Regions from separate parts of the Homo sapiens genome. Here all the other regions are linked to region 1. Evidence: fine-mapped expression QTL. A gene starts in region 1. Each other region holds a variant in brackets. All regions are shown on one strand. Distances are between the middles of the regions. Region 1 holds the start of LTBR (lymphotoxin beta receptor). Region 2 has its middle 21 kb from the start of LTBR. Region 3 overlaps TNFRSF1A (TNF receptor superfamily member 1A).

The links. PIP is the estimated chance that this variant, and not a neighbour inherited with it, causes the effect.
Region 2: its variant is fine-mapped to the expression of LTBR in whole blood (INTERVAL, PIP 0.99).
Region 3: its variant is fine-mapped to the expression of LTBR in whole blood (TOPMed, PIP above 0.99).

What each region holds. Positions count from the first base shown.
Region 1 is chr12:6,380,985-6,388,984 of GRCh38, reverse strand. LTBR (lymphotoxin beta receptor) reads right to left here and starts at 4,823. Exons shown (of 10, transcript NM_002342.3): 1 at 4,531-4,823; 2 at 4,301-4,397; 3 at 3,838-3,963; 4 at 3,606-3,758; 5 at 2,823-2,919; 6 at 2,541-2,638; 7 at 480-587; 8 at 160-185. The coding sequence starts at 4,626. RefSeq lists an enhancer at 4,905-5,770.
Region 2 is chr12:6,400,250-6,410,711 of GRCh38, reverse strand. It overlaps the pseudogene RPL31P10. Among named protein-coding and RNA genes, the nearest start is that of LTBR, 21 kb to the right of the region's middle. The variant G/T (reference allele first, on the strand shown) is at 4,915.
Region 3 is chr12:6,328,407-6,338,868 of GRCh38, reverse strand. TNFRSF1A (TNF receptor superfamily member 1A) reads left to right here. Exons shown (of 10, transcript NM_001065.4): 2 at 4,625-4,778; 3 at 5,004-5,132; 4 at 5,353-5,502; 5 at 5,722-5,800; 6 at 7,943-8,016; 7 at 8,158-8,271; 8 at 8,574-8,602; 9 at 8,803-9,091; 10 at 9,247-10,098. The coding sequence ends at 9,557. It overlaps PLEKHG6 (pleckstrin homology and RhoGEF domain containing G6), which reads right to left. Exons shown (of 16, transcript NM_001384598.1): 16 at 10,363-10,462. Among named protein-coding and RNA genes, the nearest start is that of TNFRSF1A, 8.4 kb to the left of the region's middle. RefSeq lists enhancers at 1,549-1,598, 1,372-1,666, 1,659-1,748, 1,065-1,934, 3,677-4,547 and 1 more. The variant T/C (reference allele first, on the strand shown) is at 5,689.

The sequences.
Region 1 (8,000 bases):
TGCCTAGGACAGTGCCTGGTACGTGGCATGTTCAGTAAATCATCAGTTGAATGAATGAATGAGTGTGGAGTCAGCCTGCATACTCTCTTCCTGTCTGCTCCACCTTGTACCCTCATCACCTCTTCCCCTTCTTGCTGCCTTCTCAGCCCCCGCCATTACCTGCGGACGCCTCTTGAGCAGCGATCCTGCAATGGAGAATGAAATGGGTGTAGGCTCCCCGGCAGGCCTCAGACCTAGCCTTTCAGCCTCCACATCCCAGCACAATGTGTAGCAACTTGACCACCCGGGGGCCCAGAGGAACAAGCCACTGTCACTCTCATCTCCAGCCTCAGAATAAGCAGCTGGATGAAGATAAGGATGTCTATGTTGGGGGTAGGCATTGGGAGTCTTGAGGGTGTGGAGGGTTGCACCGGGGAAGTTGAATATTCCTCCCTCCGGCTCCCATTGCCAACCATCCACTGCATCCAACCCTTTCCTACCCAGTTTCCTGCAGAGAGAAGGGTGGCTCTTCCAGATGCAGGAGAAGACGGTGGCAAGGAGCAGAAAGAAGGCCAGTGGCAGCAGAACGGCCAGCATCAGCATGGTTCCTGCCAGGACAGCAGACAGGAGGGTGATCACAGCCCCAAGAAGGGCAGAGGGGAGGAGGAGAAGGAAGAGCTTTCCAGATCCCTGGGCAACCCAGACAGAGAAAAGGGAGCAGCTTTTTTCCTTCTAGACACAATGCAGCTCCTAAAGGCAGAATGAGAGAAACTTCCCTTGGGTTATAGAGAAGGGGAACTAAGTTGGACTTGAGGACCTCTTGGCAGCCAGGAGAGACTGTATCATGGATGGGCATGTTTGGGGGTGGTGTGGGTGCCCTCCTGCTCAGAGACCAGGATTGGGCAGGCTTGTGTGTGCAGGATGGGAGCTTAGGCAGTTGATTTTCAAGGTCTGGAAGTGGGATTGGGAGACAGTAGGGAAGGGTGGGACTTGGAGTTGTAAACAGACACAGGCTAGAGCCACATTTCTGTGGCCTCAGCCATTGTACAGAGGGGCTGCTGTAGAGGAGCTAGGGTTGCCCTGCTGTACCTGTACCTGTGGGGGTGTTTACAGGGGTGAGAGAGTAGGGAAACTTGCTTCGGAACTGCCTGTGGCCGCCTGGTAGAGCAGGGCTTGCAAGTTCTCCACCCCCTTGCTCAGGGCAGGTTCTAGGAGGGGAAGAGAAAGAGAGGCTGGAGTTCGGCTTCTCCAGCTGTGATCTGTAGCAGTGGGTAATTTCTCTTTCTCTGGGTACCAGTGCTGCCAGCAATAGCATGGAGCCTCCAGTGTCCGTCAGCTACGCCTGGGGAAGGGCGGGAGGACTCCCGCATTTCTATGCTGGGCATTTTGCCTCTTCTCATTCATGTAAATCTGTAGCCTAAGGGAATATGGGATGGGAGGCCTGGGGAGAAACTGGACTGGGAGTCTGGGCCACGGTTTCCTGCCCGGCTGTGTGACTTTTAAGTCATTTCACTTCTTTGGGCATCAGTTTTTCATATATAGGATGAGGTTAGCTTACATACTCTCTAAAATTCCAGCTCTAAAATGCCAGTTGTATTTGATACATAGTTAAAAATTAACAGGGCACAGAAAAATACTTAGATTGTGGAATGAAAAAATCAGGTTACGAAATATTAAAATTACTTCACTTTTAGTAAACAACAACAAAACCCAGTATGTATAAACATGCATAGAAAATGTCCGGGAGGATATATACCACAATGTAACGAGTGGATATTCTAGGTAGTGGCTCTGTGGGTGAGTTTTTAGTTTTGCTTATCTGAAGTCTCTAATTTTCTATAGTGCATGCATTATGACATGGGCTCTGGAGTAAGAAAACCTGAGTACAGGTTCTAATAACACCAGTGACCACCTGTGTGGGTGATCTTGAGTATATCACTTAACCTCTTTGAGCCTCGGTTTCTTCCTTCAGTCCATGAGGATGATAATAGAATCTACTTCATAGCATCATTAAGAAGATTAAATGAGTTAGTAAATGTAAAGTGGTTACAGAGTGCCCAACACACACAGTGAACCTTCTGCCAATTAGTGATGTTACAGTCATTAGAAACAATAGTCATCTACTAGGCTAGCAAGCCAATCAGTCCACAGGAAACAGTCAAGAAAGAGTCAAATGGGAATCTTCTGTCTAATAATAAAAGTATATAGTCTAATAAAGAGGTGTTTGGTCTAGTTAATGGATTGTGTGAAAAAAAAAAACGGATTGTGTAATGTTGGTAAGCCCAAAATGATGACAATAGTAGTTATCATTACATCTCAGTGTGGGATGTGTTCCTTGACATAGTATTACAGTATATATAATTTTAAAAGTGTGTGTGTGTGTGTGTGTGTGTGTGTGTGTAAACTAGCCTAGAGATACTCCAATTTTTTCTGTAAGGAACTTTCTTCTTGCCCAATTCTGGGAGGGAAGTGTTCATCTTTTCCCCATTTTTTTTAAGATGTGGAGCATTAAGGCATTTTCAGAGGCGCCCCCCCCGTGTCCCTCAGCCCTGGTCCCTCACCTGACATCTCTGGGGGCAGTGGCTCTAATGGATTTTTGCAGGTTGTGTCGGACTGGGCAGTGCCTGGAGCTGCCTCCACCAGACCTTGGTTCTCACACCTGCAGAGGAAAAAAAGATGATGACCTTTTCACGCCCTGGCCCACCAGTGTCCCGACTCCACTGGGCAGGCGGGGAGGCTGAAAGTGGTGAGTCGAGTCCGTGGTGTCAAGGATAGGCGCTGGGGGTTGTTAGCAGCTGAGGCTTCTCAGAGGGTGGAAGGAGCTTGGGTGGGGCTGCACTCACCTGGTGTGGGGCTGGCAGCGGGCGCTGGGGGAGGAGGTATTCTGGAAGTGCCCGGCCTTGCAGGGGACGCAGTGGTTGTTACCCTTCCCAACTTCATCTGGCAAGAGAAAGGCAGGCCAGCCAGGGTGAATGGGCAAAAGGGAGGGGCCCTTTGCCGGCCTGTGAGTTTCCTTTAAGCCTCAGGATGCCCATCCACCCCATTGCGTAGCTCTCACCTTTCCCAAGCTCTGCTTTGCTGCCTTTTTTTTTTTTTTTTTTGAGACGGAGTCTTGCTCTGTCGCCCAGGCTGGAGTGCAGTGGCGCGATCTCGGCTCACTGCAAGCTCCGCCTCCCAAGTTCACGCCATTCTCCTGCCTCAGCCTCCCGAGTAGCTGGGATACAGGCGCCCACCACCACGCCCGGCTAATTTTTTGTATTTTTAGTAGAGACGGGGTTTCACTGTGTTAGCCAGGATGGTCTCGATCTCCTGACCTCGTGATCCGCCCACCTCGGCCTCCCAAAGTGCTGGGATTACAGGCGTGGGCCACCACACCCGGCCTACTGCCTACCATTTTGCCCAAGCTTCCCAGTACTGAGAAGAACCACCTCCTGTGTCCCCTGCACCTGTCCCAGTTCCATGTCCCTCCAGAACCCTTCTGTGAGCCTCTGCATGGAATGAGAAGAGGAATTTTAAGCCAAGGATCTGGGGGGTCGCCGTGGACACAGTACCATATTCCCTGCTCCCACTTGAGATCCCTGGCACCCAGCCTCCTTTTCACATCCAGCCCCTCAGGGACCTCTGACCTTTGAGCTCGGCTTCAGTGCCAGGCGGGCAGTCAGAAAGTAGCTCGCAGTGTGTACACTCGAGGGCCCAGGCAGCACAGAACATTCCCGGCTGGCAGCGGCACTGGGTCTTCCGTTTGCTTGTGCAGGGGGCAATCTCCTCGAGGCCCATCACTGGCGGGGAGACGGGAGGGCTCAGGGAGGGGCCAAGCTCCAGGGGATCCAGCCCCCCCGCAGGCACATCCCCACTCACCTGGGTCACAGGGGCGGCACAGCTGGCAGATGGTCAGGTAGTTCCAGTGCTCGTTGTAGGAATTCTCGGCACATGTGGCACAAACTGTGTCCCGGATGCGGCTACATTTAGCTGAGACATAGGTGCCTAGAACGTGAGTGGAGCAGTAGAGCCTCAGGAGACGAGGCTCCACCCTCACCTCCGCTGCCTGTAGTGTGACCCTGGCCTTTCCCTCGGTCTCTCTGGCCCCCCATCATCCTGCCAGTGGCCCTCCGGCTCCCTCTCAGTGAGGTAAGGAAAGAGGAGGCCCAGTGGGGAGGGCCAGTCCCATCTCCTCCACGTGATGTCCAGGGTTTCCCACGCTCGTCTCCAGCAGCCAGTTTTCCTGGGGGACAGTGCCCACCTTCCCTCTGAGGCCGCGAGGGGGCTGGAGCCCCCGTGACCCACTTCCGAGGCCCAGGTTCGTCCTGCCATTGCCTCTCACCTGGCGGGCAGCGGGAGCAGCAGATGCGGTGCTGGGGCTCATAGTATTCCTTTTCCTGGTCCCTGCAGGTCTGGTTCTCCGACGCATATGGAGGCACCTTCAAAGGGAGATGGAGAAGAGGAGAGAAGAATTAGTCAGGGGTCAGCTTGGGAGGGCAGAGGGAATGGAGCGACGGCTGCCCAGATCCCTCTTGCCCACCCTCGCCCACTCCTACCAGGCCCCTTCCTCACCGCCTGGGGCTGCGATGCTGCCAGGAGCCCGAAGAGGCCCAGCACCAGAGGCCCCCAGGCCAGGCCGGGGGCAGAGGTGGCCCAAGGCAGGAGCATGGCGGCCACTCGGCCAGGCGGCCAGCAACGTGGGGGCCTGGGAGGAAGGCAGGAGGCCCGACGTCCTGGGCAGCGGTGGCGGCGGCTGCCCGAGCCCAGAGCCTGGGACGGGACTCAGGGCCGATGTGCACCCCAGGGCCGGGAGCGGCCAGGCCGGGCCTCCAGGGCTCCCATGGCGGAGCTCAGGAAGTGGGAGTGGAGCGAGCTGGCCGCGGGGCGGGGACAGGGAGCGCTGGGAGCCAGGCCGGCCTGTCGCAATCGCAGCCCAGGGAAGAGGAACAGGCTTGTCTGCCTCGATGCGGGGCGGGAGGGGCGGCCGGGAAAGCACGTGAGGGCCGCGGGGCCGGAACCGGCCTCCTCCCTTCTTCGGAAGCCCGATCGGGAGAGCGGACTGCGGACAGCCCTGGCCCAGCCGAGGGAAGGGCGGCGGGCCCGGGGTCAGCCCTTGGACAAGCCTCGCAGGGAGAGCAGAGGGAGTTCCAGAGAGCGCAAGGGACAGCTGGGTGCGGGATCTGGAAAGCGAGGGGCCCAGGACGGGCAGTCATGGAGAGGGCAGGGCGCGGGGACTGCAAGGCCGCAGAAGCAGCTCTGAGACCGAGGAGAACCGGCTGGCAGATGCCCGGGTTCCTCCCCCGTTGTCCTGCCCTACTGTGGGAGTTTTTCAGACAAATTACAAGGGACTAGCAAATCAGCCAGCCCCCCACGCTACCAACCCAGCCCAATCCGCACAGGAGTGGGCACAGGTCACCTAGGAGACCCTTGAGAGCTGTGCAGCTTGCCCTGCTCCCTGTCCTCAGGGAACCTCCCTCCCAAAGAGAGGGGGAGGATATGCGGAGGGGAGTCCTGGGGCCAGCAGGCTGGACCTGGGCACTCAGTCCCTCTGCTCTGGCTTCTTTGCCCATGAACCTTCAAACCCCTTAGAACTGGAGAAAGCTGAGAGCCCACGCAGTCCAGCCCCCTCACCTTAAGCATGGAGAGGGAGGCTAAGGGTGATACATAAGGGAACCGGGATTCCAGGGTGGCCTGGTCTCGTTCCTGCCCTGTTTCATCCTCCCATCTCCCTCAACCCAACACCCCACCCACCCGTGGAGTTACTTGCAGCTGCCCCCTTTTACACGTGGTTCTCTGGTCCCCAAGTTTCCGTCTTCCTAACTCCCACCTGTCCTTGAGGCTTCACTGAGGCTCTGGAAGGCAACCTCTGCCCTAGGTTGCACAGTCCCCGTGAAGACTGCCCTCTGTACCTGGCTGTCTTGTTTGCTTCCCACCAGGCTGTGAGTGCCACCATGGCCCAGGCTGAATCTTCAAGTCTGTGTTCCCCATGCTTAGCAGAGTCTGGCACATACCATGTGCCCAATAGGTATTTATGGAATAAATGAGTGATGGCCACATCACAGAGCCAGTCCACCGCAGAGCCAGCTACAATCTGGGTCTCCTGATGTCTAGGTCCCAACTCATTCCAGCAGTCCTGCCAACTCCTTGTGGCTCAGGGATGTCTCCCTTGGGATGAGGGGCTAACCTCTCTTGAGATAGGTCACTTGGGCACTATCCCCCTCCCTGAAGGACTCTGTTCAGCACTCGTCCTTACACTGGTCTGTCTAACTTCAGGTCTGATGTCTGGACAGGTGCAGGTGATGGGAAGTGTGCATGGGGAGGAGAGGTCACAAAAGGGGGAAAGGACCTGCCTAGGCTGTAGGCATTTCACTCTGTGAGGCTCTCTCCCCTCACCTGGTGCAGGCAGCTCACCGTACAGATGGGCCAAAGATGGCTGGAAAGGGCAGAAGTATCAGAACAGCATGCACTGCGCGGGGCTGCTGAGCCTTCCAGGGCCCTAGCGCTGGGGGCTGGGATGAGAGTCCCTGCTGAGCTCTTAAACGCGTAAAGGAATGTGTGTGTAGCGACCCTAGGTCCTTTTTTCTCTCTCTTCTTTTTACTTTTTACTGTGGAAATTCCACATGCAAGATAATATACCAAAAGAGAAAAAGTAATATTGGGAGTCTCCCATATACTCCTTACCCAGCTTCAACTCACTGTCAGTTTCATTTATTCTGTATACCCCCTCCCCCACCAACGCACACACTCTTCAAATCCCTCATTATTATTTTGAAGTAAATCCCAGACATCATATCATTTCATTTGAAAATATTTCAGGATTTTACCCTAAAAGACAGGGACTCTTTCTCTATTCTATTTTTCTTTTTTTCCCCACCCTGTCTTATGCTGCTGAGACCCTTTCTTTTAATAGAGGTGTAACATATAATACAATGAAACCGTAAGGTACACTGATCTTACAGATACAGCTCAGAGAGTCTTCACTTTTGTGTATTCTTGCATATCCCCCAACTGGTCCAGAACACCTCTTCTCTTCTCTTCTTTTCTCTTTTCCTTTCCATACAGAGTCTCGCTTTGTCGCCCAGGCTGGAGTGCAGTGGTGCAATCTCGGCTCACTACAACCTCTGCCTCCCAGGTTCAAACAATTCTCTGCCTCAACCTCCCGAGTAGCTGGGATTACGGGCGCCTGCCACCATGCCTGGCTGATTTTTGTATTTTTAGTAGAGATGGGGTTTCGCCATGTTGACCAGGCTGGTCTTGAACTCCTGATGTTGTGATCCACCCGCCTTGGCCTCCCAAAGTGCTGGGATTACAGGCGTGAGCCACGGCACCCGGCCCCAGAATGTTCCTTGCACTACAAATGTTTGCTACATGCCCTTCCCAGTCAAAGCTTCCTGCTTCACAGGTAACCACTATGTCCAGACCCCTTTTAACCCCAGCTGGCTGGACTGTATGTTTCTTTCTGCTGCCAGCCGTAAGCTGGCGCTTCAGCCCTCATGGACTCTCTACACCCTAAGGAACGAGCCCTGAGATCTGGGTTTTGATCCTGGCCCCATCACTTTATCTCTGTGTGCCTCTTTATTGTGTCAGTCAGCTACTGGTTTGCTTGCAGGTCTGTGGGATGGAGGTGGGATGGGAGGAGTGAAGCAGCCAGGCTATTTCTCTCCTCTCTGCTTTCTGGCTTCACCTGCAGTTGGTTGTCTTCCTTCCTTCCCCACTTCCATAATCCCATCTCCTACCAGTAGTCCACACTATTTAGTTCCTGCCAAATGGCTCTGGAGGCTTCTTGGTCTTTGATGCTACATCACCCTGCCATCTTTCCAGGCCTAGAGATGGTAGCTGCTTCCCGCTCTGCTGTTTTCTGAGCTGCCTCCCATTGTCTTCTCAGCTCCTCCATCACCCATGTACCAGTTAGTTCTCTGTGTTAAACTTCTTCTGTTTGAAAGACTTAGAGTGTTTCTTGTTTCCCAGCTGGATCACGAAAGACAAATCTTACCAATAAATGGCTACTATAATGCCCAGCCATCCCCAGGAGGATAAAGGGA
Region 2 (10,462 bases), 20 kb before region 1:
GTCAGTATCTGTTGTGTTATACAGCATATCCAGCTTTCAATGAAAACCACAAGGTATACAAAAAGGAAAGAAAAAACACAATCTGGACTGGGCATGGTGGCTCACACCTGTAGTCTCAGTACTTAGGGAGGCCAAGGCAGGCGGATGACGAGGTCAGGAGTTCAAGATCAGCCTGGCCAGTATGGTGAAACCCCTCTCTACAAATACAAAAATTAGCTAGGCATGGTAGCGCATGCCTGTCAACCCAGCTACTGGGGAGGCTGAGGCAGGAGAATTGCTTGAACCCAGGAAGCAGAGGTTGCAATGAACAGAGATCATGCCACTGCACTCCAACCTGGGTGACAGAGCAATACTCCGTTTCAAAAAAAAGAAAAAGACACAATCTAAAAAGACAAAAAAAAAAAATCAGAACCAGACTCAGATATGACATCAGACATGGAATTTAAAGTAACATGATTATGTTAAAGGATTTAATGGAAAAGGTAGACAACATGCCAAAAGAAGATGGATAAATTCAGCAGAGGAAACCATAAGAATAAAATGGAAATGCTTGAAATAAAATCGTGGTGACAGAAATGAAGAACACCTTTGACTGGTTCATCAGTAGACTCAGTATAGCTGAGAAAAGAATCAGTGACCTTGGGTGTAGAGGTCAATAGAAATTTCCCAAACTCCCTTTCCAACTTGGACATGGCAGAATGGCTCCCACAAAGAAGGGTGGCGAGAAGAAAAAGGGCCGTTCTGCCATCAACGAAGTGGTGACCCGAGAATACACCATCAACATTCACAAGCGCATTTGTGGAGTAGGCTTCAAGAAGCGTGCCCCTCGGGCACTCAAAGAGATTCGGAAATTTGCCATGAAGGAGATGGAAACTCCAGATGTGCGCATTGATACCAGGCTCAACAAAGCTGTCTGGGCCAAAGGAATAAGGAATGTCCGACACCGAATCCATGTGCGGCTGTCCAGAAAACGTAATGAGGATGAAGATTCACAAATAAGCTCTATACTTTGGTTACCTATGTATTTGCTACCACTTTCAAAAATCTACAGACAGTCAATGTGGATGAGAACTAATCGCTGATAGTCAAATACATCAAATAAAGTTATAAAATTGCAAAAAAATAAAGAGGAATTACCCAAACTGAAGTGCAAAAAAAGAGTGGGTAAAAAACAAAACAGAACAACAACAAAAAAGAAAGAAAGAAGACACCATCCAAGAATACCAAATGAGTTAACATGCCCATAATTGGAATTCCAGAAGGAGAAGAAAGACTTGGACAGGATTTGTCTAATCAGACTTAGTTAAACAAACAAACAAACGAACAAAAAGAATAAGACAGGAGAAACATTTGAAGAGATAATGGCTTAGAATTATCCAAAATTAGTAACAGACAGAAAAGCACAGATCAAGGAAGCTCAGAGAACACCAAGCAGGATAAATACCAAAACAACACAGCCCCTCACCAAACCCATGCATCTAGGCATATCATATTAAAACTGCTGAAAACCAAAGAGAAAGAAAATCTGGAAGTCAGCCAAGGGGGAAAAAACATAATATCTTACCGAGGAGCGAGGATAAGAATTACAGCAGACTGCTAGTCAGAAACAATAAAAGCAAAATGAAATGGAGTAATATCTTTTTTTTTTTTTTTTTTGAGATGGAGTCTCGCTCCATCACTCAGGCTGGAGTGCAGTGGCATGATCTTGGCTCACTGCAACCTCCGCCTCCCGGGTTCAAGTGATTCTCCTGCCTCAGCTAGGTGCCTGCCATCATACCCAGCTAATTTTTGTATTTTTAGTAGAGACGGGTTTTCGCCATGTTGGCCAGGCTAGTCTCAAACTCCTGACTTCAGGTGATCCACCAACCTTGGCCTCCCAAAGTGCTAGGATTACAGGCGTGAGCCACTGTGCCTGGCCCAAATTAAGAGTTTTCTATTTTTATTTTTATTTTTTTAGAGACGGGGTCTCACTACGTTTCCCAGGATGGTCTGAAACTCCTGGACTCCAGTGATCCTCCCACCTCAGCCTCCCAAAATGCTGGGATTACAAGCATTAGCAACTACACCAGGCCAAAATTAAAAGTTTATCAGACAAACAGAAACTGAGGAAGTTGATTGCCAGCAGACCTACTTTATAATAAATGTCAAAGCAAGTTCTCTAAGAAGAAGAGGCTGGGTGTGGTGGCTCACGCCTGTAATCCCAGCACTTTGGGGGGCCAAGGCGGGTGATCACTTGAGGTCAGGAGTTTGAGACCAGCCTGGCCAACATGGTGAAACCCTGTCTCTACTAAAAACACAAAAATTATCTGGGCGTGGTGGTGGGCGCCTGTAGTCCCAGCTACTCAAGTGGCTGAGGCAGGAGAATTGCTTGAACCCGGGAGGCGGAGGTCGCAGGGAGCCGAGATTGTGTCAGCCTGGGTTGAACAGAGTGAAACTTCGTCTCAAAAAAGAAAGAAGAAGAAGAAATATAATCAAAATCTTGGATCTATACAAAGAAACAACGTACTGTAGTTTATAGAATACCATTTACAATAGCAGCCCCCATGAAGTTTTTAGGTATAAATATAACAAAATACGTGGGAGATATGTGTGCTAAAAACTACAAAATACTGACGAAAGAAATCAACATGGGGCCGGGCATGGTGGCTCCTGCCTGTAATCCCAGCACTTTGGGAGGCCGAGGCGGGCGGATCACTTGCGGTCAGGAGTTCAAGACCAGTCTGGCCAACATGGTGAAACCCCGTCTCTACTAAAAATACAAAAATTAGCCCAGTGTGTTGGCACACGCCTGTAATCCCAGCTACTTGGGAGGCTGAAGCAAGAGAATTGCTTGACCCCAGGAGGCGGAGGAGGCGGTGAGCCAAGACTGCACCACTGCACTCCAGCCTGGGCGATGGAGATTCCGTCTCAAGAAATAAATAAATAAATAAATAAATAAATAAATAAATAAAAGAGAAAGAAAGAAAAGAAAAACTGAATGCTACAAGTTCAGCCCATTACTAACCAGTTCCAGACAAATTGGCTTTTTTCTTTTTTCTTCTTATTTTCCTCTGGCTTTTCCCCTCATTTTAAAAATGGAGAGGTAATCGTGCCTCTCATGAGCGAATAGTTTTAGTATGCTTAGAACACTGTCCTGTACATAGTAAGCATTCAACATATGTTGGCTAATACTACTGAAGCCAATTGTAACAGTAGTATTAGAAGCCGTAATAATATTACCCCAGTCAAATATGTCCATAATTGGCAATAGGGAAAGAATTGCTGCCACTCAGCAGTATTTGGAGTATTGAATGTCATTGTTTACTTTTTCTGGAAGGAGCGTGACCTAAGACACTGATCTAAACTGAATGTGCATGGCTAATGGTGTGGATAGACAGAGATTTTAAGTGGGCAAAAGTGAAGGTTGTGTTGACAAGAAGTTTCAGGAAACAGTGATGTGGATGAATTTCCCAGAACGGTCCCAGAATATGAGAATAATGTCCCACGTGAATGCTAATCGAAATTCCCACTCTTCAGAGGAGGCTATCAGCAATCAGGTACACATCAACCATATGGCTGTCATGTAGTCTCTTCGTATCACCCCACTTACTGCCCAAGTGATTTATTTGTAAACAATGTGGCCAGCGTGGTGGCTCACGCCTATAATGCCAGCACTTTGGGAGGCCGAGGTGGGTGGATCATCTGAGGTCAGGAGTTTGAGACCAGCCTGGCCAACATGGTGAAACCCCATCTCTACTAAGAATACAAATATTAGCCGGGCCTGGTGGCGGGTGACTGCAATCCCAGCTACTCGGGAGGCTGAGGCAGGAGAATCACTTGAACCTGGGAGGTGGAGGTTGTAGTGAGCTGAGATCACGCCATTGCACTCCAGCCTGGGTGACGGAGTGAGACTCTATCTCAAAAAAAAAAAAAAAAAATGTGACTAGGGTGGCAGGCAGTGGTAGAGGTTATACTTGAGCTCTATAGTATAGACTTAGCTCACCAAGGCTGACCTCTGGATGCTGATGCTGCTAAGTGTCCCATATGTCAGGGGAAGTATTCTTGTATTCTTGCAAGTATTTTGTCATGGATGGGGCAGGGATTTGTCTTCACTGAGATAAACACTTACTCTAGATTTGGATATGCTTCACTTACATGCTATTGCTAGCAGGACCATCAATGAACTTACTGAACACTTCATACCTCATATCTCACAACGTCTTTTTGGACCCATTTCTATAAGTTATACAAAAAGGGTAAGGTAATGCATGGATGACCATGGGACTCAGTAGTTCTAATGTGTACCACATTCCTTATAAGTAGAAATCTCAATTTTTGGAAGCCTCAGTTAAAGTGGCATGTAGTCATTTTGCACCCTCTTGGAGTACTGTTCAATTTTCGACATTGTATATGTGCTTAATAGTGACTAAGAATAGGCATAATTTCTTCTGTAGCCAAAATGCATTGGTTAAAGAAAGGAGAGGTAGGAGTGGAGTGGTGCCTCTCCTATTACACTTAACAGCCAACTCGAGAAAGTTATGCTTTTCATGTTTGCAACTCAGGGCTCTCTGCTGCCTTGAGTTGTTTTAGAACTCCTTGTTTTAGAAAAGGAGGAGTACATGCTGCCACCAGTCGTCACGGAGATGCCTCTGTTTATCGATTTACTAAAAAGGATTTATTTTTGTATGACGTTTAAAGCAGTTTAAATTACATTCATTTGCTGACTTAGAGAACTGTGGGAAGTCTTGACTTATGGGAGTTGGGCTTTTGGACTTCTCCTCTGTTTGCCAGTTTTCTTTTTGTTTCTGTCTCCCCTTTTCTTTCCCCCGTCTGTCTTGGGCTATCTCTTTTTAGGCGCATAGGCAAGGAGCTGTGACCGACAATTTGAATGTTTTTAAAAATACTCTCATAAAAAACACACCTTTGGCCGGGCGC[G/T]GTGGCTCACGCCTGTAATCCCAGCACTTTGGCAGGCTGAGGCAGGCGGATCACAGGAGGTCAGGAGTTTGAGACCAGCCTGGCCAACATGGTGAAACCCGGTCTTTACTAAAAATACAAAAATTAGCAGGGCGTGGTGGAGCGCGCCTGTAGTCCCAGCTACTCGGGAGGCTGGGGCAGGAGAATTGCTTGAATCTGGGAGGTGGAGGATGCAGTGAGCCGAGATTGCGCCATTGCACTCCAGCCTGGGAGACAGAGTGAGACTCTGTCTCAAAAAAAAAGAAAACAAAACATTTTTTTCTGCAATACTTTTCAAAGAATGGTTTAAAAGCAATGACAATCCATGATCAGTGAGAATTTTCACTCAGATTATGGTCTCTCAATTCCTTTTTCAAAGAGCAGACAGGCTACTTGGAGACTTGGGTAAATTTATGGATTATAATAGATTTAAGAGGAACAGCCATCAGATGCCATATTTGGAGCTGGTGGGACCTCATTCAGACAAAATCAGTATAAAAAATATTTCAGACAATTCAGGATTTCCTTTCTTTAAGGGCTAGGTATTGGATAATGTTATAAGTCATTTTTAAAATTTTCTTAGGTGTGAAATCTTAGTGTATTTTCTCTATATTCATATCTGTTAGGATGTTTGTGAAAATATTCATGATTAAAATCACATTTTTGAGATTTCATGTTTGGGATATTTTTTAGACTCCCTCATCCACCATTGTGGGTGCAGATAATGAAACAAAATGGCAAGTTGTTGGTAATTTTTGAAGCACGTGTGACGAGCCCTGGGAAGTGCAGTATTCTCTATATTTTTGTGTCTACTTCAGTATGTCCATGACCACTCCCTTTCCCCTCCAAAAAAAAGTTAAAATTTAAAAAAAGCTGGCTAAATTAAAAAAAAGAAAAGAAAAAGGAAATCAACAAAGATATAAATAAATGATTAGGTGTAGGCTGGGTGGGGGCTGGGTGTGGGCTGGGTGTGGGCTGGGTGCACCTGTAATCCCAGTGCTTTGGGAGGTTGAGGCAGGGGGATCACTTGAGGCCAGAAGTTCGAGACCAGCTTGGACGACACAGAAAGACGCAGTCTCTACACAAAATAAAAAATTACTCAGGCATGGTGGCATGTGCCTGTACTCTCGGCTACTTAGGAGACTGAGGTGGGAAGATCACTTGAGCACAGGAGTTCAAGGTTGCAGTGAGCTATGATTGCACCACTGCACTCTAGCCTGCACTCTAGTCTGGGTGACAGAGTGATACCTCGCCTCAAAAAAAAAAAAAAAAAGGTATAAATAAATAGAAAGATATACTGTATTCATAGATTAGAAAATTCAATATTGTAAATATGTTAATTCTCCCCAGTTTGATCTATAGATTCAATGCATTATCAATCAAAATCATAGGAAGCTTTTTTTTGATAGAAATTGACAAACTGATTCTAAAATTTATATGAAAAGGGAAAGAAATGAAAAGGAACTAAAAAAATAGTAGGAGAAATTACTCTACCACTTATTAGACTTATTAGAAAGCAATTAGTGTGGTATTAGCGAAAGAGTAGACAACTTAGGTGAATAGAGCCAATAGAGAGACCAGAAATAAACCCACACAAATAATGTCAACTGATTTTTGACAAAGATGCAAAGGCAATCCAGTGGTGAAAGAACAGTCTTTTCAACAAACAGTGCTGGAAAAATTAGACATTCATATGTAAAAACAAAACCAAAAAACCTCAACACGTACCTCACACTTACACCAAAAAATGGCTCATAAACTTAAATGTAGAAAGTAAGACATCTAGAAAAAAGCACAGGAGACCCTGTGTGTGTGTAACCTTAGGTTTGGTGATAAGTTTTCTGGTACTGGAAACACAATTCATAAAGAAAAAAATGATGAATTGTACCTTATCACAAATAAAAACTTTTGTTCTGTGAAAGATAGGTTGAGAAAATGAATAGACAATCCACAGCCTGGGAGAAAATATTTGCAAATAATGTATCTGATAAAGGACTTCTATCCAGAATAAATAATTCTTCTTTTTCTTTCTTTCTTTCTTTCTTTTTTTTTTTTTTTGAGACAGAATCTCACTCTGTCACCCAAGCTGGAGTGCAGTGGCGTGATCTTGGCTTACGGCAACCTCTGCCTCCCGTGTTCAAGCGATTCTCCTGCCTCAGCCTCCTGAGTAGCTGGGATTATTACAGGCACGTGCCACCACACCTGGCTAATTTTTGTATTTTGCGTTTTTTTTTTTTTTTTTGAGATGGAGTTTTGCTCTTGTTGCCAAGGCTGGATTGCAATGGCACGATCTCGGCTCACCACAACATGTGCCTCCCCGGTTAAAGTGATTCTCCTGCCTCAGCCTCCCGAGTAGCTGGGATTACAAGCATGCTCCACCATGCCCGGTTAATTTTGTATTTTTAGTAGAGACGGGCTTTCTCCATGTTGGTCAGGCTGGTCTTGAACTCCTGACCTCAGATGATCCGCCCACCTCGGCCTCCCAAAGTGCTGGGATTACAGGCGTGAGCCACCATGCCCGGCCTAATGTTTGTATTTTTAGTAGAGATGGGGTTTCGCCATGTTGGTCACACTGGTCTCGAACTCCTGACCTCAAGCGATTCAGCCGCCTAGGGCTTCCAAAGTGCTGAGATTATAGGCGTGAGCCACTGCACACTGCCGAATGATCCAATTTAATAACAAGCAAAATATCTAAAGAGACACTTCAGAAAATAAAATACCTGGATGGCAAATAAGCATATGAAAGTTGGTTAACAGCATTTGTCATTAGAGAAATGAAAATTAAAACCACAATGAGGTACCACTGCTCACCTACTACAATTTCTAAAACACTGCCACCAACCACCAAATGCTGGTCTTACTAGAATTTCTAAAACACTGCCACCAACCACCAAATGCTGGTCTTACTAGAATTTCTAACACACTGCCACCAACCACCAAATGCTAGTCGTGCTACAATTTCTAAAACACTGCCACCAACCACCAAATGCTGGTCTTACTACAATTTCTAAAACACTGCCACCAACCACCAAATACTGGTCTTACCAGAATTTCTAAAACACTGCCACCATCATCACGAGGTCAGGAGATTGAGACCATCCTGGCTAACATGGTTAAACCCCACCTCTATTAAAAATAAAAAAAATTAGCTGGGTGTGGTGATGGGCGCCTATAGTCCCAGCTACTCAGGAGGCTGAGGCAGGAGAATGGCGTGAACCCGGGAGGCGGAGCTTGCAGTGAGCCGAGATCGCGCCACTGCACTCCAGCCTGGGTGACAGAGCAAGACTCCGTCTCAAAAAAATAAATAAATAAAATAAATAAAAATAAAAAATAAAAAAAAACACTGCCACCATCACCAAATGCTGGTCCTACTAGAATTTCTAAAACACTGCCACCAACCACCAAATGCTGGTCTTACTAGAATTTCTAAAACTGCCACCAACCACCAAATGCTGGTCTTACTAGAATTTCTAAAACACTGCCACCATCACCAAATGCTGGTCTTACTAGAATTTCTAAAACACTGCCACCATCACCAAATGCGGGTGAAGATGTGCAACAGGAACTCTCATTCATTGCTTTTGGGAATGCAAAATGATATAGTCACTTTGGAGACAGGTTGGCAGTTGCTTTTTCCTTTTTCTTTTCTTTTTTTTTTTCACTTTGTGAGACAGTCTCGCTCTGTCTCCCAGGCTGGAGTGCAGGGTGGGATCACATCTCACTGCAGCCTCGACCTCCCGGGCTCTAGAAATCCTTTCACCTCAGCCCCTCAAGTAGGTGGGACTAGAAGCACACATCAGCACACCAGGCTAATTTTTGTATTTTTTTTTGTGAGACAGGGTTTAGCCATGTTGCCTAGGCTAGTCTCGAGCTTGTGGACTTAAGCGATCTGCCTGTCTCAGCATAAGGAAAGACAGAAACTGTCACAGATCAGAGAAGACTAAATATTAAGGGATCATAATCACTAAGTGCAATGTGGTATCCTGGATTGGATTCTGGAACAGAAAAAGGATTTAAGGAAAAAAACTGGTGAAATCTAAATAAAATCTGTAGTTTAGTTGATATGTTAATTTCTTAATTAGTTTTGACAAATGTATCATGGCTATGTGAGATATTAACATTAAGGGCAGCTGGGTGAAAGGTATACCAAAACCCTCTGTACTATCTTTGCAACTTTTCTGTAATTCTAAAATTTTTCCAAACTAAAAACTCATTAAGAAAAAAAACCCAAATGAGCCAGGCGTGATGGTTCATGTCTGTAATCCCAGCACTTCGGGAGGCCGAAATGGGCAGATGGCTTGAGGCCAGGAGTTCAAGGCCAGCTTGGCCAACATGGCGAAACCCCGTCGCTACTAAAAATACAAAAATTAGCCAGGTGAGTGGGCGCCTGTAATCCCAGCTACTCGGGAGGCTGAGGCAGGAGAATCGCTTGAACCTGGGAGGCAGAGGTTGCAGTGAGCCAGGATAGCACCGCTGCACTCCAGCCTGAGCGACAAGAGGGAGACTCCATCTTAAAAACAAACAAACAAACAAATACTAACTGATGGGGATATAAGTCAAAATAGGAAAGTGGATATCTCTGGGATGTCATATGTCTGCCAGAATATAAACTGGAACTCAAGCAGTAAGCATGACTGAGTGGAAAGTGGCATGAAGTTATCTTCTAAGGAAGTAAAATGTTGCATATCTTCTGTGATGGTAACATGGGTATATACCTATGTAACACTTCTTCAGGCTATACACTTAAGATTAATATACTTTATATACTTTACAGGCCGGGTGAAGTGGCTCATGACTGTAATCCAAGTACTTTGGGAGGCCAAGGCAGGTGGATCACTTGAGGTCAGGAGTTCGAGACCAGCCTGGCCAACATGGTGAAACCCCATCACTACTAATAATACAAAAATTAGCCAGGTGTGGTGGTGCACGCCTGTAGTCCCAGCTACTAGGGAAGCTGAGACAGGAGAATCTCTTGAACCTGGGAGGCAGAGGTTGCAGTGAGCCGAGATTATGCCACTGCACTTCAGCCTGGGCAACAGAGTGAAAAAAAAAATATATATACACACACACACACACACACACACACACATATTTTATATATATGTGTGTATATATACACTATATACACATATTTTATATGTATGTGTGTATATATACACACACACACACATATAACATATATATTTATATATATATACTTTACTACACTGGAAAAAAATTTTACTGGTTTCCTATTGCTCTTAGGGTAAAGTTCAAAATTGCTGTAGTCTGTAAGTCTGAATGACGTGTTACCCGCCTACTTCTCTAGCTTCATCTCTCTATTCCCAAGTTCCAGCCAAACTATTCTTCCTATCACAGGGCCTTTGCACGTACCATTTAACCCACCAGCAGAGCTCTCCTCTCCAACACCCCTTCAATTTGGCTAGCCCTTATTTATTCTTCAGGTTGTATCTTAAATTTCCTCAGGGAGGAATTTCCTCATCTCCAGACCTAGAATCGGTCACTGGTTATATGTTGTGCTTCTCTTTTG
Region 3 (10,462 bases), 51 kb after region 1:
TGCTTGAGTCCAGGAGTTCGAGACCAGCCTGGGCAACACAGCAAAACCCTGTCTCTACAAAAAATACAAAGATTAGCGGGGCATGGTGGGGCGTGCTTGTCATCCCAGCTATTCGGGAGACTGAGCTCGGGAGGACGGCTTGGGCCCAGGAGGTGGAGGTTGTAGTGAGCCCTGACCACACCACTACATTCCGTCCTGGTGGTGAAGGTTGCAGTGAGCTATGATTGTGCCACTGCACTTCACCCTGGGTGACAGAGTGAGACCCTGTTTCAAAAAAAAAAAAAAAAAAGTAGTGAGGCATCTGTGGAAGTCTTCAGATCATTTCCATGACCATGGAAATGCTGTTTGGAGCCAGGCCCTGGAGATGGAGAGGAAGGTTCACACACTTGTGCGTGCAAGTTAAAGCCTGAATGAAGATTTAAAAAGTGTGTAGGACGGATGGGAGCAGGAGAGAGGCTAGAAGACACTTGCAATAACCCAGGTGTGAGGCAACCCAGGAATGCGGAGAGGACCGAGAGATCACAGGGGGAGGCCTCGCAAGATGAACTGACACATGGGATGGCGGCAGGGATAGGGATGGGGCCCTGGGGAGAGAGCGTGGCAAGTTCTCAGCATTCGTCCGGGAAGTCGATGGTGTGTCATTTGTCTAGGTGAGGAGATGGATGAATTCCGTCTGGGGCATGTTAAGGGTCAGGGAAATGGTCATGTGGAAGGGTGCGCCTACCAAGCTGGAGGAGAGGTGCTGCAACTTCTTTCTGCCTTTGTATCATTCAGACACACTGTGTTCACTCATCAGTGGTTCTCAAAAGGAGAGGAGCACACCAGACTCTTAAGTAAGGGTGTGTGTGCTTGTGTGTGGGGAGGTGGGGGGATGGTCTGAAAACTCTCCCCCGGAGATAAATATATTCCTACCAGGGGTGCTGTCTCCTCACCTCCCTCTTTGGGAATCACTGGCTTCTACTAGAGTGGAAGACAGATGTATCATTAGATCGATCAGTTGATCCATATTTATCTGCTCCCAGTCTGGAGGTCTGGTTCTGGGAGCTGAGAGGACACCAGGGGAGGATAAGACACTTTCTGACCAAGACATTTTTTGATCTCTCATCTTATAAGGTTCGTGGTCACTTTGGGGAGATCATATCTGTCACCCAACATAACCATATTATGATAAGAGCCAAAAGTAGATAGGGTCAGTTCACGTGCTTCGAGTTCACAGGGACTATGGGTCTAAGGAGCCGGGGTGGAGGAAACAGACATCGTCAATGGTGGCTTCACGGGAGGGAGATGGGATCTCAACTGGGCCCTTGGAGGAGAAGCTGCCACGACCTCCCCCAACACCTTGACATTAAATGAACAGACACATGAATGAGGGGGAAAGGAAGACTAATTGGGTCCCTGCAAGGTGGCTGGATCGGGGTCAGACCACAAGGCCGATCTCAGCGTCGCCTCCCCACTCTGCAGCCCCAGCACAGGAAGTCACACTTTAAAGCCTCCTCTGGCGGAAATTGTGGGGGAGTTGGAGGGGTGTTGGGCCACCCCCTCAACTGTCTCTCCACAGGCACCCCAGCTTCCTGCCCTTCTGCTCCAGGCTGGAGTCTGGGCCTAAAGAGCTCACCTCCTGTTTCTCCTGTTTTGCTTCATTTACGCAACTGCTGAGGACTGGGCTTACTGGGGCCAGCTGGTGCCAGCAGTGGTGCCCAGTGGTGGGGAGTCTGAGGGCCCTGGCTCCTAGGGATCAGAGAGGGCTGACCTGGAGCATTCTGGGGGCCAGGGGAAGCCTAGGAAGCAGGGCTGGTTCTTCCATCCGGCATCCCTTCTTGCCTGCTCCCTCGTTCCTGGAAGTGGGTGTTCAGGGCTCTGGAGGCTTTCCTGTATTGCCAGTGGGCTTGGGGAGGGTCTGTGGAGACTCAGAACTGGCCTTGTTTCCTAAGGATTGTCTGGGGACCCCAGGGAGGCCCCCAAACCCAGCACAACTGGTCAGAACCAGCCAGGCTGTGGGAATGCGGTGAACCCAGGGTGGGAGGGCAGCCTTGGCTTGCTTCCTGCTGGGACTGGGGAGTGTTGGGGGATGGAGTGAGAGCTCACGGAATGGGTTTAGCTGTTGGAGACTTGTTGAACTGGGAGGAGGAGCTGGGGCGGGGCCTCAGCTAAAGGCCGCTGAGGGGCTAGGAGGAGCCAAGTGGCCCTCAGGGAAGGGAGGGCACAGACCTGATGGGCGGAAGCCAGGGTCGAGGGAGACTTCCCTTCGGGATGGAATGGGGAGAGGGAGGCATTTCCCGGAACATGTGGGCCAAGTGGGACAAGGGTCTGTGGCCTGGCTCTTTGCATGGGGAGGGGATGGATGGGGGTTGAGTGGGGATGGGAAGGAGGGACTTGGCCATAGGAAGAAGGGATTAGATGGAGTCCCACTTGCATGCAGGCTGGTGCCTTCTGCCTTTCTGCTGACTCATGACCCTTGAGGAGCTGGGGAAGCTGCTAGTTCCCTCTCCCCTCCCTAGGTCTCCCTCCCTCTGGCCTGAGTCACTGGGGCGGAGTTGCTGGGAAAAGATTTCCCTTTCCCGGATCTGACTTAACCCCCAGAGTGCTGGAAAGAGAAGGGAACACGTGGCCTGAGAAAGCCTCTCTCCCTCCCTCCCTCCAGGGAGGCTCATCCCCCACTGGCCAGAGGTCCCTGAAAAGCTCCCTTTAAGGCTGTCTGGGGCTGGCGTCCCCCAGTTCTTCATCATGACTCTGCCTCAAGCCCCCTGGATGGGATTCAAAGTACCAGTGACCTTAGGTGCTCCAGTGGCTTCTTCGGGGAAAGGAACCACACTTTCAGGACTGGGAAGTTCTTCCCATCACCACCCCAAACCCTTCCTGTTGCCCTGGAAGCCCCAGTCCTGTTCTCAGCAGAGGTGGCACGGTGTTGGCTGGTGCGGGCAGGGGAAGGTTGTTGTCCTCTGAGCAGGGGCACACGCCTCCACCTGCGGGGGCTGCTGTTGTGTTTCTGTGTGTGGCTTCCCCTGTTTGCGGCTGAGGCTTGAACTTCCGGGCCTGCACAGCTTACAGCTGCAGCGTCTCCCCGTGGCTGACTCAGGGTGACTGGCCTCCTGCTCCGAAATGTGGAGTTGGTGAGGCTGGGTGGCTGTGGGCTGCCTGACCCTCCTTCCCTGCCCTAGGGTTTCTGTGATCTGGTGAGTCAGTTGCTCCCCAGTGTTTAACAGACATTGAGGACACCCTCTTATCTTTACACAAAGTGTCTCTTATAGTAGAAAAAAAAAATGAAGCCCAGGGAAAACCAGAAATGAAGCTGGCAGAGATCAAAGTCCAAGTTAGAGCTAAATATTCACTCCTGGCTTTGCTTTCCTGGCACTGATGCCGGAACAGGACAAGCCATTTAGCTGCTGTGGGGTTGGCCTGAGACTGCAAAGCACACCTTCCAGAATGCCATGGTGTGCAGGGGGCTCCAGGACTCCCCAGCACGCCCTCAGCTCTGACCTGACAGTCATCCAAGCTGGGTCGCTAGCCTTGGCCAGCTCTATTTGCCTATGTCCTGCACACCTTTGCCCACTCCTGCCCCCGTCTCAACTTTGTCCCCCGTCTACCCATGCAGGATCCCCAACCTTTCCCTTTTACTCTCCTCCCCATTTGTCCTTGCCAACCCCGGGTGTTTGTAAATTTTGAGGTGGAGGGGATGGGCCAGGGAATGTGAGGGCGGAGGCAGATTGAGGTTTGATACAAACATGTAAATAAACTTCCTTCTTCTGTCCACTCCCCAGGAGTGGTGCTCACGGGAACATCACTCGCCCCCACCGCCAGCTGACTTTTTCAGAAAGCTTTTCATGGTGTAACATATTCCTGGGATGTGCATAGATCCTCATTGTTTACCTCTGTGAATGTTCGCAAAGCGATCACACGGTGAACCCAGCACCCAGATGGAGAAACACCGCCCCAATCTTTAGGGCTGCTTGTTGGAAGAAGGGGCCATCACTGAAGTAACCTGCCAATTCCCAATCAAAAACACATCCTTTCAACATCTGCCCTGTGTCCAGCACTGTTAGCTGCTGTGGGGGATTTCACAGTAAGGATAAAATACAGGGCTGGGCTCACGCCTGTAATCCTAGCACTTTGGGAAGCCAAGGTGGGAGGATCACTTGAGCCCAGGATTTTGAGACCAGTCTGAGCAACGTAACAAGACCCTGCCTCTACTAAAAATAAAAAAAAATTAGCTGGGCATGGTGGTTCACGGCCGTAGTCCCAGCTATTCAGGAGGCTAAGGTGGGAGGACTGCTTGAGCGTGGGTGGTGGAGGGTGCAGTGATTGCATCACTGCACTCCAGCCTGGACAACAGAGCAAGATCCTGCCTAAAAAAAAAAAAATACAGCTTAGATCTGGGGCCTACTAGCTTTGAGTTGAGGGAACAAAAATGAACACACAGGACAACTAGAGAACAATTAAGCATCAGATTGTATGGCCCCAACTGTCTAAGTTTCAAGGAAGAACTCTAAACTTAGTGAGTGGCGTGGCCTGGGCGGAATGTTTCACTGAGGAAGGACTTGAGCCAGGGAAGTTTTAGATCTGCTACCCCTAAGCTTCCCATCCCTCCCTCTCTTGATGGTGTCTCCTCTATCTGATTCTTCCCCAGGTGCTCCTGGAGCTGTTGGTGGGAATATACCCCTCAGGGGTTATTGGACTGGTCCCTCACCTAGGGGACAGGGAGAAGAGAGATAGTGTGTGTCCCCAAGGAAAATATATCCACCCTCAAAATAATTCGATTTGCTGTACCAAGTGCCACAAAGGTAGGGGCAAGTGGAAACGGTGAATGCCCTCAGGTCTGGGGTGCTGCTTCTTTCTCTGCTTCTTCCAGTTGTTCTTCCCTAACTTTGCTGTCTCTCCTGGGCTGGGATTTTCTCCCTCCCTCCTCTCCTAGAGACTTCAGGGAATCGGCCCTGGCTGTTGTCCCTAGCATGGGGCTCCTTCCTTGTGTTCTCACCCGCAGCCTAACTCTGCGGCCCCATTCACAGGAACCTACTTGTACAATGACTGTCCAGGCCCGGGGCAGGATACGGACTGCAGGGAGTGTGAGAGCGGCTCCTTCACCGCTTCAGAAAACCACCTCAGACACTGCCTCAGCTGCTCCAAATGCCGAAAGGGTGAGTGTGCACAGGCAGGAGAGTCAGGCGGGTCTTGAGTGGTGTGTGGGTGCCTGTCTATGTGCAGGCTGGTGGGTGTGGGCAGGAAGGTGTGTGTTTTGGTGGGACACTGCATGGATGTGAGTGTGTATTACAGAGACACACACTTAGGGGTATGTCAGGAAGGGGATGCAGGGACAGGAGGATGCAGGACTCATACCCCATCTTCTCCCCTCACCAGAAATGGGTCAGGTGGAGATCTCTTCTTGCACAGTGGACCGGGACACCGTGTGTGGCTGCAGGAAGAACCAGTACCGGCATTATTGGAGTGAAAACCTTTTCCAGTGCTTCAATTGCAGCCTCTGCCTCAATGGGACCGTGCACCTCTCCTGTGAGCGCAGCTCTCCTGAGGCCAAGCCCTCTCCCCACCCCAGGGGTTGGCCCCTTCCCCATGCGGTGGCACTTCCTTTCCTTCCCCCTCCTGTATTCTGTGGGTCTGACAACCAACTCCTCTCTGGCCGCCCCCACCCTGTCCCTCGTCACTTCCTCTGTCCTGTGGGGTGGGGGTGCAGGCGCT[T/C]CTCCTTTAGCTGTGCCGCACTTCTCCCTACAGGCCAGGAGAAACAGAACACCGTGTGCACCTGCCATGCAGGTTTCTTTCTAAGAGAAAACGAGTGTGTCTCCTGTAGTAAGTGAGTATCTCTGAGAGCTGCTGGGCACTGGATGGTGGCATGGGTTGGGACGGGTGACTGGTGGGAACCATTAGCTGGGCAACAGATGCCAGGATGCCCCAGAGTGCTCAGGGTCCTACTGGCTGAGTAGGAGACACTTCGTTAAGACACCAGGCAGTCCTTCCCCTTGCTCTTCAAATCTGAAGAAGTCTTTGAGGATGGAAGATCATGCCCCAAGGGCTGGCAGCCCTTCCAACTCAGATATGTAGATTCTTGGATCTACGATAGCTCATTGGTTCTAGGACATACACTCTTATAGCTCTGAAATCAAACCTCCTATAACTGGTGACTCATCATGGTTGAATTGGCAGCTCTGTTTGCGTCTGGGTAGTAATGTAAAGAAAAGTGCCTTTTATTCTTGATGGCGTCTTAGGTTTGATGCAATATGGTATTTCCTCATTAGTCACTGTCCAGGCCTCCTTACTCCTGGCTCCACAGAGGCTGTTCTTGTCACTCACTTGCAAAGAATAAACTCTGAGGGCTCTCAGAGTTTGAACCCCAGCATAGCCACTTACTGGCTATGTGACGTTGGGCAAGTTTCTTAACATCTCTGAGCCTGACTTTTCTTTTGGTGTTTTTTTTTTTTTTTTTTTTTTGAGACAGGGTTTCACTCTGTCACCCAGGCTGGAGTGCAGTGGTGCAACCGTGGCTCAGCCTCCACCTCCAGGGCTCAAGCCATCCTCTTGCCTTAGCCTCCTGAGTAGCTGGGATTAGAGGCACACACCACTACACCCAGCTAATGTTTTACTTTTTGTAGAGACAGGGTCCTACTATATTGCCCAGGCTGGCCTCGGACTCCTGGGCTCAAGCGATCTTCCGCCTCAGCCTCCCAAAGTGCTAGGATTACGGGCATGAGCCACCACGCCTGGCCTGGGCCTTAGATTTCTTATATTTAAAGTAAGCATAATGACATTCATTTGGTGAATTTGTGAGAACCAAAAACAAAGAAACAAACAAAACCTACAACACGTCTGACACAAAACTATTTATTTTCCATTAATCTTCTTTTTTTTTTTTTTTTTTTTTTTTGACACAGAGTCCTGCTCTGTCGCCCAGGCTGGAATGCAGTGGCGCGATCTCGGCTCACTGCAACCTCTGCCTCCCAGATTCAAGCAATTCTCCTGCTTCAGCCTCCCAAGTAGCTGGGATTACAGGCACGTGCCACCATGCCTGGCTAATTTTTGTATTTTTAGTAGAGATGGGGTTTCACCATCTTGGTCAGGCTGGTCTCAAACTCCTGGTGATCCACCTGCCTCTGCCTCCCAAAGTGCTGGGATTACAGCCGTGAGCCACTGCACCCAGCCGGCTTCATCTCTTCTTGAAATCACTTTTATACCATTCTATGTGGTTCTCACCATGAGCTTGAGTGGTGGGCTAAAGTGCCTCTCCCTGCTTTCAGCTTCCTGCTGGGAACTCACTCTCTCAAGTTCCTTCCAGCACCACCCCATAGAGTTCCCATCACTCCACACTGTCCAGTGACAACTCCCAACATGGAAGATCTGCTAGTTCTACAGGGTGCTCTCTGGCTGCCCCAGTAACATGTGTTTTTAAATTTTTCACATGCATGTTTGACCCCGACTCCCCGAAGTCAGGTACTGTAACTAGCAGTGTCATTTAAGAAAAAGCCCTTTAACCTCTCTTTGCCAAAGGATTCTTATCAGCAAAACAGTGATGAAACAACAATCCCATAACAGCTAGCTGGCTACCTTCTCAAGCACTTATTAAATGAGGCATAATGATTTTGCTTAATCCTCAATCCTGAGAGGTGGGCGATCCCTGTGGTGATGAGGAAACCGAGGCTTGGGGGTTAATGGCTTGCCTAGATTCACACTGCTAGCCAAGGAATGAACTGGAATTTACACCCTGACCCTGACTGCTTTTCACATTTTCTACACAGCCTTTTCAAGATCCCTGCCAATTCTAAAATTAAATGATTCTATGATTAACTGTGTTTCATTCTTCTGCATCAGTTCCCAAAACAAATTATATCAAGAGACAGCAAAAATATTTGTAAAGAAAGGATGTCCAACAATCTGTGTGGTTGTTTTTCTGTGTTCCTCCAATGGTAGGGCCTCTGTTCACCAGTGCCGTCTCTTCTTTTAGCTGTAAGAAAAGCCTGGAGTGCACGAAGTTGTGCCTACCCCAGATTGAGAATGTTAAGGGCACTGAGGACTCAGGTGAGGAGAAGTGACCTGGTGCCCATGCTCACCTGCCCTCTCCCTCTTCTTGCCCCCACCCGTCCATCCATCCCACCCATCCATCTATCCCTGCGGCCCCCCTCTGCCCGCTCCTCTGACCAACACCTGCTTTGTCTGCAGGCACCACAGTGCTGTTGCCCCTGGTCATTTTCTTTGGTCTTTGCCTTTTATCCCTCCTCTTCATTGGTTTAATGTATCGCTACCAACGGTGGAAGTCCAAGCTCTACTCCATTGGTGAGTGGGGGCTTTGGGAGGGAGAGGGAGCTGGTGGGGGTGAGGGAGGACATGGGTGGGTGCGATGGACATGTGTGGAGGGAGGTGAGGAGTGTCCCCTCAGTTCATACCGCTGGGGACTCTGGGCAGAAGGTGGCCCTGGATGGCTGGGGAGATGTCGAGCTGCATCAGTAGCTCTCTCGTCCCTGGGGCCACATAGGCCCTGAGGCATGTCACCACAAGTCCCCACTGCCAGCTGAGTCCAGGGTGCCAGGGCTGAGAGAGGAAGTGAAATTTATGATGCTTTCTTTCTTTTTCCTCAGTTTGTGGGAAATCGACACCTGAAAAAGAGGTGAGATGAAATGAGAGAGTTACTCCCAAATGTCCCTGACCATTCCTTATAATTGCCTAATGCTCAGATCCCCTGGAATCATCCTTCACTTTCCGGGGGCTCGCCTCATTCCCTCTAAGTCCCAACCCCCACGTAGAATAAAGAGGGCCGGGGCTGGTTTTCGCTGCCGCACTAATGCTGCGCCACCTTCTCTCTTTCAGGGGGAGCTTGAAGGAACTACTACTAAGCCCCTGGCCCCAAACCCAAGCTTCAGTCCCACTCCAGGCTTCACCCCCACCCTGGGCTTCAGTCCCGTGCCCAGTTCCACCTTCACCTCCAGCTCCACCTATACCCCCGGTGACTGTCCCAACTTTGCGGCTCCCCGCAGAGAGGTGGCACCACCCTATCAGGGGGCTGACCCCATCCTTGCGACAGCCCTCGCCTCCGACCCCATCCCCAACCCCCTTCAGAAGTGGGAGGACAGCGCCCACAAGCCACAGAGCCTAGACAGTGAGTTTCTCCCGCGGCTGGAGACGAGGAGGCTGGGGGAGGGCCGGGGGAGCGCGGGAGGCGCTCCCAGAGGGGACCACGAGAGGCGGAGGGCGCGGGATGCGGGGCGGGGCCTGGGGTTGCCGCCCGAGGCTCACCGGCCCGCGTCCCCGCAGCTGATGACCCCGCGACGCTGTACGCCGTGGTGGAGAACGTGCCCCCGTTGCGCTGGAAGGAATTCGTGCGGCGCCTAGGGCTGAGCGACCACGAGATCGATCGGCTGGAGCTGCAGAACGGGCGCTGCCTGCGCGAGGCGCAATACAGCATGCTGGCGACCTGGAGGCGGCGCACGCCGCGGCGCGAGGCCACGCTGGAGCTGCTGGGACGCGTGCTCCGCGACATGGACCTGCTGGGCTGCCTGGAGGACATCGAGGAGGCGCTTTGCGGCCCCGCCGCCCTCCCGCCCGCGCCCAGTCTTCTCAGATGAGGCTGCGCCCCTGCGGGCAGCTCTAAGGACCGTCCTGCGAGATCGCCTTCCAACCCCACTTTTTTCTGGAAAGGAGGGGTCCTGCAGGGGCAAGCAGGAGCTAGCAGCCGCCTACTTGGTGCTAACCCCTCGATGTACATAGCTTTTCTCAGCTGCCTGCGCGCCGCCGACAGTCAGCGCTGTGCGCGCGGAGAGAGGTGCGCCGTGGGCTCAAGAGCCTGAGTGGGTGGTTTGCGAGGATGAGGGACGCTATGCCTCATGCCCGTTTTGGGTGTCCTCACCAGCAAGGCTGCTCGGGGGCCCCTGGTTCGTCCCTGAGCCTTTTTCACAGTGCATAAGCAGTTTTTTTTGTTTTTGTTTTGTTTTGTTTTGTTTTTAAATCAATCATGTTACACTAATAGAAACTTGGCACTCCTGTGCCCTCTGCCTGGACAAGCACATAGCAAGCTGAACTGTCCTAAGGCAGGGGCGAGCACGGAACAATGGGGCCTTCAGCTGGAGCTGTGGACTTTTGTACATACACTAAAATTCTGAAGTTAAAGCTCTGCTCTTGGAGACAGTGGTCTGTCGGGATGGGAGGTGGGGGCAGAGGCCCAGATCCTGAGGGGTGAGATGGGAAAAGCCCTGCACTAGGGCCAGGTAGCCCATCACCATCACGCCAAGTGACAGAGGAGTAGCAGGTTCTTGTTCTGAACACCGTCATCTGTTGCCCAAGCTGGAGTGCGCTCACTGCAGCCTCCAACCCTTGGGCTCATGGGGTCCTCCCGCCTCAGCCTCCGGACACAGGCACACCACCACACCTGGGTAATTTTTAAAATTTTTTTTTGTAAAGACAGGGTTTCCCTATATTGCCCAGGCTGGTCTGGAACTCCTGGGCTCAAGGGATCCTCCCACCTCAGCCTCCC